2 separate regions of the Homo sapiens genome follow, and region 2 is linked to region 1. Evidence: fine-mapped expression QTL. A gene starts in region 1. The other region holds a variant in brackets. All regions are shown on one strand. Distances are between the middles of the regions.

The links.
Region 2: its variant is fine-mapped to the expression of CSF1 in whole blood (TOPMed, PIP above 0.99).

Annotation. Positions count from the first base shown.
Region 1 is chr1:109,908,541-109,913,052 of GRCh38, forward strand. CSF1 (colony stimulating factor 1) reads left to right here and starts at 2,309. Exons shown (of 9, transcript NM_000757.6): 1 at 2,309-2,522. The coding sequence starts at 2,484. RefSeq lists silencers at 2,403-2,572, 2,623-2,732 and enhancers at 2,518-3,018, 3,019-3,519, 3,596-3,695.
Region 2 is chr1:109,851,979-109,855,978 of GRCh38, forward strand. The region is part of intron 4 of LINC01768 (long intergenic non-protein coding RNA 1768); the gene reads left to right. Among named protein-coding and RNA genes, the nearest start is that of LINC01768, 26 kb to the left of the region's middle. The variant A/G (reference allele first, on the strand shown) is at 2,205.

The DNA.
Region 1 (4,512 bases):
GCCCTAGGGACTCCCATATGTCAGCCCATTTGACCTCATGACCACTCCTTTGGGGAAAGTCTTAAAATTGCCACTGTACAAATGAGGAAAGAGAGGCCCAAAAGGCTAAGGGGTTACACAGCAAAGTTACACAGCAAATGAATGGCAGAGCTGGGACTAAAATCTGGCCTTGGGACTCCCAAGTCCACTGCACCATTGTGGTGTCATTGCTTTAGAACCCATGTGAGTGAACAGATAATAATAACAATAGCACTTACTGTCTTCAGGCCCTGTGCTAAATACTTCACAGGCCTTATCTCATTCAATACTCATAACACCTTGGTCAGAGAGAGAAATTAACATCTCTATTTTATAGACATGGGAACTGAGAGAAGTTTGTCCAATGTCACACAGCAAATGACTTGGCAGAGCTACCAAGGTCAAATCACTTGTAAGTAGTGGAGTCAGGTTCAAACCAGGGTATGTAAAGAACTCCAGTGCGGGGAATGAGGACCTCAGGCCTTGCACCAACGTGGAGAATGATTACGTTCCTCCAGAAGCTGAGCAAAGTCCAAATGCCAGCCTCAGTGAACCTGGGCCAGGGCTGGGTTGGTGAAGGAAGGAGCAAGTAAAACTGGACCCCTTTCTCAACAAGTCTGTTGGTTTATCTTTCTCAGGTTACTTCCTCTAACCTTTTATCAGTCTTAAGAACTGTGGTGTCAACATGTTATCTGAAATCATTATTGTACAGTGACCATGTCATTGTTGTATCCCCAGGGCCCAGCACGGTGCCTAGCATCTGGTAGCACATATTTGTCAAAAGAACAAAGTATTCTCTAATGGCATCATTCAACTCAGCCATCATTAACTTGGTACCTATTATGTGCTAGGTACCATTGATCCAGAGGTGACTGAGCATGGGTGCCACCTGGAAGAAGTCTCGGTCTAGGGTGGGGACAGAATGTAACCATCGGTACCACCTTAAACACTTCGAAAAGTACTGTGGAGAATGAATGGATGGCAAATGACTTATCAGAGCCAGCATTGAGGAATGAGCCAAGTCCAATGGGAACACAGGAAAAGGACCCTTTGCTCTGCCAGGAGAGTCACAGAAGGCTTTGCTGGTGGAGGATGAGATGCAATTTCAGCCTGAAATGATGAGGAGTTTGTCTTCAGCCATGTGGAGAAAGGAGCATTCCAGGCAGAGGGACCAGTCTGAGCAAAGGCATTCGGGTGTAAAATTATTGCCTAGGATTGGAGTGAAGGATATGTAGCGCTACTGACAAGAGACTCCTCTTCAAGAGCAGGCCACATATCCTTTATTTCCCAGGGGGTGGAAACGGGCAACCTCACAGAGGAATTGAATCATAATGAATTGAAGAAAGAAAAATCTCCTGAAGTTGGCATTATAATTAATAGGCTTAGGCTCATCCTACTAGTCCTCACTTAGACTCATTCTCATGTAGAAACAAAACGTGATTAATCACCTCAGTAAGTGCAATTTCCAAAAACATCCAGGGAAATCTAGGGTCCAGGTGCAGGACCTTTCCAATCTGAGTTGGATTTTGCCTCCAGGAGAGAGCATGGGTACCAGCCAGCATTTTCATCATCTAAGGGTCAGGTGCCTTGAAGTGTCTGCTGGCACCCAGGGAAGAGCCCCCCAGCTTGCTGTCACAGGACACAGCTGCTCCCTTCCTGGCCAGGTAGCTGGCCTCCCTCCCAGAATGGGACTTGAAGCTGGCCGGGCTGCTTGGGGGCTGCAGAGGAAGAAGGGGGCTGCCGGCAAACCTGCTGACTCAGGCTCCACGAGGGAGCAAGTAACACTGGACTCCTTTCGGCACTCCGAGAATGGGGTGGGGGCGTCTTCAAAGGATTTCCCTCCCTTCCCAGTGCTTGTCCCTGCTCTCGGTCCGTTTTCTGCTAAGATTTGGGGATTTTCAGGCCTGGAGGGAAAGTCCCTTGGGACGATCATAGAGCGCTAGCACTGAATCAGCCTGGAGAGCGCGGAAGGAAAGGGTCGGTCCGCAGAGGGCGCGGGGAAGGCAGGGTGGGGACGCGGTGGAGCCCGCGCTCGTTTGCTGAAGGCTTGGAAGTGCAGCGCAGAAGACAGAGGGTGACTAGGAAGACGCGCGAGCGGGGCTGGCCGGCCGGCGGGTGGGGGAGGGGAGGCGGGGGAAGGCGGCTGAGTGGGCCTCTGGAGTGTGTGTGTCTGTGTCAGTGTGTGTGTGTGTGTGTGTATGTGTGTGTCTGGCGCCTGGCCAGGGTGATTTCCCATAAACCACATGCCCCCCAGTCCTCTCTTAAAAGGCTGTGCCGAGGGCTGGCCAGTGAGGCTCGGCCCGGGGAAAGTGAAAGTTTGCCTGGGTCCTCTCGGCGCCAGAGCCGCTCTCCGCATCCCAGGACAGCGGTGCGGCCCTCGGCCGGGGCGCCCACTCCGCAGCAGCCAGCGAGCGAGCGAGCGAGCGAGGGCGGCCGACGCGCCCGGCCGGGACCCAGCTGCCCGTATGACCGCGCCGGGCGCCGCCGGGCGCTGCCCTCCCACGGTAAGCGACGGCCGCGGCGCTGGGCCCGGGACGGGCTGGGGCGGGGGCTCGGCGGCCAGGCGGCCGGGAGCGGCCCCTCGGAGCCGACAGCCTGGGCGCGCCGGCTGCACTGGCCCGGCGTTCCCGCCGCGGACGAACCGCCTTTGCGCACGGACTGGGCCCTGGCGCCAGGGCGGAGGCCGGTGGCGGCCCTGCAGCTGCACCGGGACTGCCAGGCTTCCCTGGGAAACGGAGGGCTGCTCACCCCATTGCACGGAGGGGAACACTGAGCCACCTGCAGGCAGGAGCCCCCGCTCAGCCAGGGTGCCCTGCCTCTCTCCCTACCCGCCACCACCAAGGCACGGGCGGAGTGGCTGTGCGCTGAGTGTGTGCCCTCCCCGGTGGGCACCTTCCTCATCGGCCACACACGTGCTTCCAAGGCCCTGCTGAGGAGTGGGCGCTTCTGGGCAGGGAAAGTTCAGGGGGTCAACCAGCTTATAGAACGCCAGGGACTTGCTGGCAGAGGGACGGAGAGGGGCAAGCCACTGCTTGTTCCAGCCCACAGGCAGGAGCTACGGAGGACTTGGGTGGCTGTTTGGGGGGTGGGGTGGGGGACGGCAACAGCCGGCAAACAGCCCCCCACCCCCGGGGCTGCTTGGGGCTAGCTCAGAATCTCTTTTTCTTGCAAATTCTGGTTTCATCGGTTGGGGAGATTCTGGGCTTTGTGGTGGTTTATGGTGGTTTGCAGTGCTTGAGGAAAATGGAAAGAGGGTTTGGTGTTGCAGAGCTGTGTCCAGGGGCAGGGTCTGCTCCTGACTGCGTAAGGGACGCCCTGCCCCAACTGTGGCGGTAGCAGATGCAGCCATAGAAAGTGAGGGTGGCACTGTTCATGACCAGTCAGTGGGCTCATAATAGATTTGCTTCTGAGGAGTCCTGGAAGAAAATGAGAGGGGAAACCTGGGGGGAAAAGAGCAGAAAATTATTTGGGGGTAGAGGAGAGCGGGCTGCAGGTGAGGTGAGAGAGAAAGGGAAGAGTGGGTCCACAGAAAGAAAGTGCCTCACTGAGAGAGAGGAGATAGAGTTGAGAGGGGAAGGGAGAAGGGTTAGCCATAGGCAGAAAGCAAAGCTTCGGGGCTGAAGGGGAGACCATGAGGAAAGAAGAGAAAGACAAGGGGGCTGTGTTTAGACAGGGGAAGTCCAAGGGCCCGGTTCTGCCAGGTCTCTCCAGAGGCCTTGTTGAGGGGGAAGATGAAATGGAATAGGATAGGTGGCAGAGGAGGCTGGACAGCTGGACTGAGGTGTCCTAGCATCTCTGAGCCTGCAGCAGAGATTCCTTCTGAGGGCTGCTCCCCAGGCAGAAGCCAGGGCTAGGGGTGGGAGGAAGAGGCAGTCAGAGGAGAGCCTGCCCAGCCAGATGCAAGCCAGAGTGTTAACCCCCCACTGTCTGTCCAGATCCTCCTGAGGCAGAATGGAGGCCCCAGGTCCAGGGGTATCCCCTTTGGCCAGCTTCGAAGTCAGCCTCTCATGTAGTGGCTGCACTTTCCCCACACTGATGCCTCAAATGTCATCAAAGCCAGACAGCCCTTGGGGTTAAGCATTGCTCCCACCTTGCTCTCCTCCAGGGAGGTTGTCTTCCTGAGCGGTCCCTTTCATCCATACCATTCACTCCAGACCTTGAGTGGCAGCCAGTCTGGGGTAGATACACCGTCTAGTGGCCCAGTTTCCTCCAATCATTCCTGAACCTAAGGTTTCTGAGTACCTGGGCCATTATTCCCACCCAGGGCAACCTCCCCAACAGAGCCTGAAGTCCCCCCAGCCCCCGTGACTGCCGTCCCCCTCTTCCACACTTTCCCTCCCTCAGATCAGCCAGGATCCTCACAGTCCCTGTGCTGAGTGGTATGAAACTATCCTTTGGCTCTTCCTTCCATGGCTCCCACCCCTCTCCTGCCATCACCTTCTCCCCATCTTTCAAGGCCTCACTGAGGTCCCTGCTCTCTGCAGTCTCCCTGGT
Region 2 (4,000 bases), 57 kb before region 1:
AGAAGGAAAACTAACAAATAGAAAGGAAGAAAGGAATAGCATCAACATCATCAAAAAGGACATCCACACCAAAACCCCATCTGTGGGTCACCAGCATCAAAGAAAAAAGGTAGATAAAACCACAAAGATGGGGAGAAACCAGAGCAGAGAAGCTGAAAATTCTAAACACCAGAGTGCCTCTTCTTCTCCAAAGGATTGCAGCTCCTTGCCAGCAATGGAACAAAGCTGGATGGAGAATGACTTTGATGAGCTGATGTTACCTGGGGGTCCTTGTTCTTAGAGCTCCCAAGATGGTGGCAGGCCGCTTCCAAGATGGCAGCCAGCCTCTTGTTCTCTAACCTGGGGTTCTTGGCCTCATGGATTCCAAGGAATGGAATCTTGGGCCATGCAGAGAGTGTTATAGCTTTATTAGAAGCTGTGGGTCACAAAAGAGAACCATAGAACCCAGCGACTAGTGTTCAGCTAGATTAGGAAGAACCCAGGCACTCAGCCATGCAGGAACAATGGCAAGCCTTTAGCCCGATCAGGAGCAGCAATGGGTGAGTCACTGGATCAGGAGTGCAGCCAACACCCTGCCGGATCCAGAGGGGCGGAAGTCAGTGGCGGGTCTGCAATGGCGACAAACAGCAGTGGTGGACAGTGAGAGAAAGCTCAGCTCAAGCTGTTACAAACACGGACCAGAAGAATGTTCAGTTGCAAGATGTAATAGAGTGAAAACAGAGCTCCCACACAATGGAAGGGGACCCAAAGGGGGTTGCCATTGCTGGCTCAAATGCCTGGGTTTATATCCCAATCATTGTCTCTCAGGTGATAGATGATTGGCTATTTCTTTACCTCCTGTTTTGCCTAATTAGCATTTTAGTGAGCGCTCTTTGCTACCTGATTGGTTGGGTGTGAGCTAAGTTGCAGGCCCCGTGTTTAAAGGTGGATGCGGCACCCTCCCAGCTAGGCTTAGGGATTCTTAGTCGGCCTAGGAAATCCAGCTAGTCCTGTCTCTCAGTCCCCCCTCTCAACAGGAAAACCCCAGTGCTGTTGGGGAGGTTGGCCGACGACTGCTCTGCTTCCTGCTGAATTGGGGCATAGTAGGGATCGTGCAGTTGAGATTTCCTCAGGAGGGGGGCCTTCAATGTCATCAACATTGGAGCATGGGCTAGCAAGCCGGTCCAGGGGTCCGCAGTAGATCTTAGTCATGGACTGCATCTGGGGTTCCATTTGAAGAATGATTTGTAGTTTTACAGCTTCGATTCTGGAAGAAACAAACTTAACAGGGAGGTTAAAGATACAGGGATTGAAATGTATGGCCGGCAGTGCAGGGGGTTATTTCTTTGGCACACTTCACAGGCCCTGACTATCTGCTTGATAGTTTTGAAAAGGCCTGGTCCAGTAAATAATAATTTGGCCATCTGGTGGGTGCTATCAATGCCTAAGTGAAAGGTCTGGTGAAGGGTTTTAAGCAATTTCCATTGGTTCGCTGCCGGCAAAAGTGTTATTCCTTCTTCGGTGGCTAGCCATCCTGAGGGGAGGAAACTATGTCCTTGTGAGGTTCCCCATTCTATTTCTCCTGCTGAGTACTGGAGCTTAGTTTCCCAGAGGGGATTACCCCATACTAGGGTCCTTCTATAAGCATTTCTAATGGAGGGTCCTGCCTTGTGGCTGTTGATGGGCTTCAATATCCGCTTGGTGGTTCTCTTCCATTTCCCTTTACTTTCCTTTCTGATGACCCCGGCAGTGTAAGACTGCCACATCTTTAGGTTTCTGTACAGTGAATAATAATCTCCTAATGGCTTCCTGATGTTTGATAGGTGTTCCCTCAGAAGTTAGGAATTCCCTTTCTCTCCATATTGCTGTGTGGGCATGGAGGAGTAGGTAAGCATATTAGAGTCTGTATACATATTTCCCCTTTTTCCTTCTAATTCTGGTGCCCCAGTGAGGGCTATTAGTTCTGCCAGCCGAGCGCTAGTTCCTGGAGTGAGGGGATTACTTTCAAGTATTCCATTATCACTGACCACTGCATACCCCACTTTTCAAAGTCCTTTTTCTACAAAGGAATTTCCATCAGTATACAAGTTGAGGTCGGGATCAGTCAAGGGAACCTCTAGAAGGTCCCCTTGAGTGGCGTATGTTTGAGCAATCACCTGTTGACAGTTATGTTCTATCTTTTCTTCATTGTCTGGAAGAAGTGTGGCTGGGTTAAGAGTTGCACA[A/G]GAGAGAAGTTCTCAGCACTGGCCCTTCAAGTAATACAGCCTGATATTTAAGCAAACAGTTGTCTGACAGCCACAAGTCTTCTTTAGCAGTGAGTATGCTGTTTACATCATTAGATGTCCACACAGTCATATCTCTTCCCTGTATTATTTTACCTGCTTCAGATACTAAGACTGCTACTGCTGCCACTACCTGTAAACAATGAGGCCAACCCTTTGCCACTAAATCAATTTCCTTACTCAGGTATGCCACAGGTTGCAAGCTGTTCCCTTGGACCTGTGTAAAGACTCCTAGAGCTATTCCTGTTTTTTTCTGTGACATATAAAGAAAAGTCTTGCCCTGTTGGCAAGCTTAACACTGGGGCTTGGGTTAGGGCCTTCTTTAGGGCCTGGAAAGCTGCTTCTGCTTCAGGTGTACATCTTACTAAATGGATATTGGCTTTCTGAGTTTCCTTAATGAGTGCATATAATGGCCTGGCTATTTCGCCGTACCTGGGAATCCATATTCAGCAAAAGGCTGTTATGCCAAGGAACCCTCTTAGTTGCTTTAGGGTTTTGGGATGAGGATAAGCCAGTATAGGCTGGATACATTCCTCACTGAGGGCCCTGGTGCCTTTGGATAATTTTAGCCCTAAGTATTTCTGCTGTGAGCAGAGCTGAGCCTTTTGTTTGGAAGCCTTGTAGCCACAGGTGGCAAGGAAATTTAAGAGTGCTTGGGTGGCTTGATGGCACAAGGTTTCTGAACGGGTGGCTAAAAGTAAATCATCCATGTACCAAAAGATGAGAGTGTTCAGGTATGAAAACTGGCTCAAGTCTTGGGCTAATGCCTGGCCAAATAGATGGGGGCTATCCTTGAACCCTTGGGGTAAAACAGTCCAGGTGAGTTGAGATGTTGGGTTCGAAGGATCTTCAAAAGCAAACAAGAATTGAGAGTCAGGATGTACAGGGATGCAGAAAAAGGCATCCTTAAGGTCCAAGACTGTAAACCACTCTGCTTCCTCTGGTATTTGGGAAAGCAGAGTATAAGGGTTAGGTACAGTGGGTATAGAGAGACAACGGCCTCACTGATAATCCTGAGATCTTGCACTAAACTCCACTGTCTGTTGGGTTTCTGTACTCCTAAAATTGGAGTATTGCAGGGGCTGTTGCACGGTTTTAGTAGGCCTTGGGCTTTTAGGTCCTTAACAATCTTTTGGAGTCCTTGTTGGGCCTCGGGTCTAAGAGGGTACTGCCTTTGGTAGGGAAAGGAGGTGGAATCCTTTAGTTTAACTTGAACAGGACAGGCATTCTTTACTCATCCATATTGTCCTTCTGTTGTCCAGACTTCAGGATTAATTCCTTCCTCAAGCAGGGGACAACAAACGGGTGTTCCTTCTCCTATGTTCAGGTGTACAATGGCCCCTGCTTTTGCTAGAATGTCTCTCCGTAACAAGAGAGTGGTGCTTTCAGGCATAATTAGAAAAGCATGTGAAAAGAGTAAAGTTCCCCAGTCACACCTTAGTGGCTGGGAGAAGTATCTAGTGACTGGCTGTCCTAGGACCCCTTGGCTAGTGACAGATCTGGAGGACAGTTGTATAGGACAGGAAAGTAAGATTGAGAAGGCCATGCCAGTGTCCAGGAGACAGTTAACCTCCTGGCCCTCAATGGTCAAGCATACCTGGAGCTCTGTGAGGGTGATGGTATGGGCAGGCACTTGCCCCGGGCACCCTCAGTCCTGCTGCTGGATCATCAGGTTAGTGGCTTCTGATTCAAACGACCTTCATTCCTTGGGGCAGTGGGCCTTCCAATGATTCCCTTGA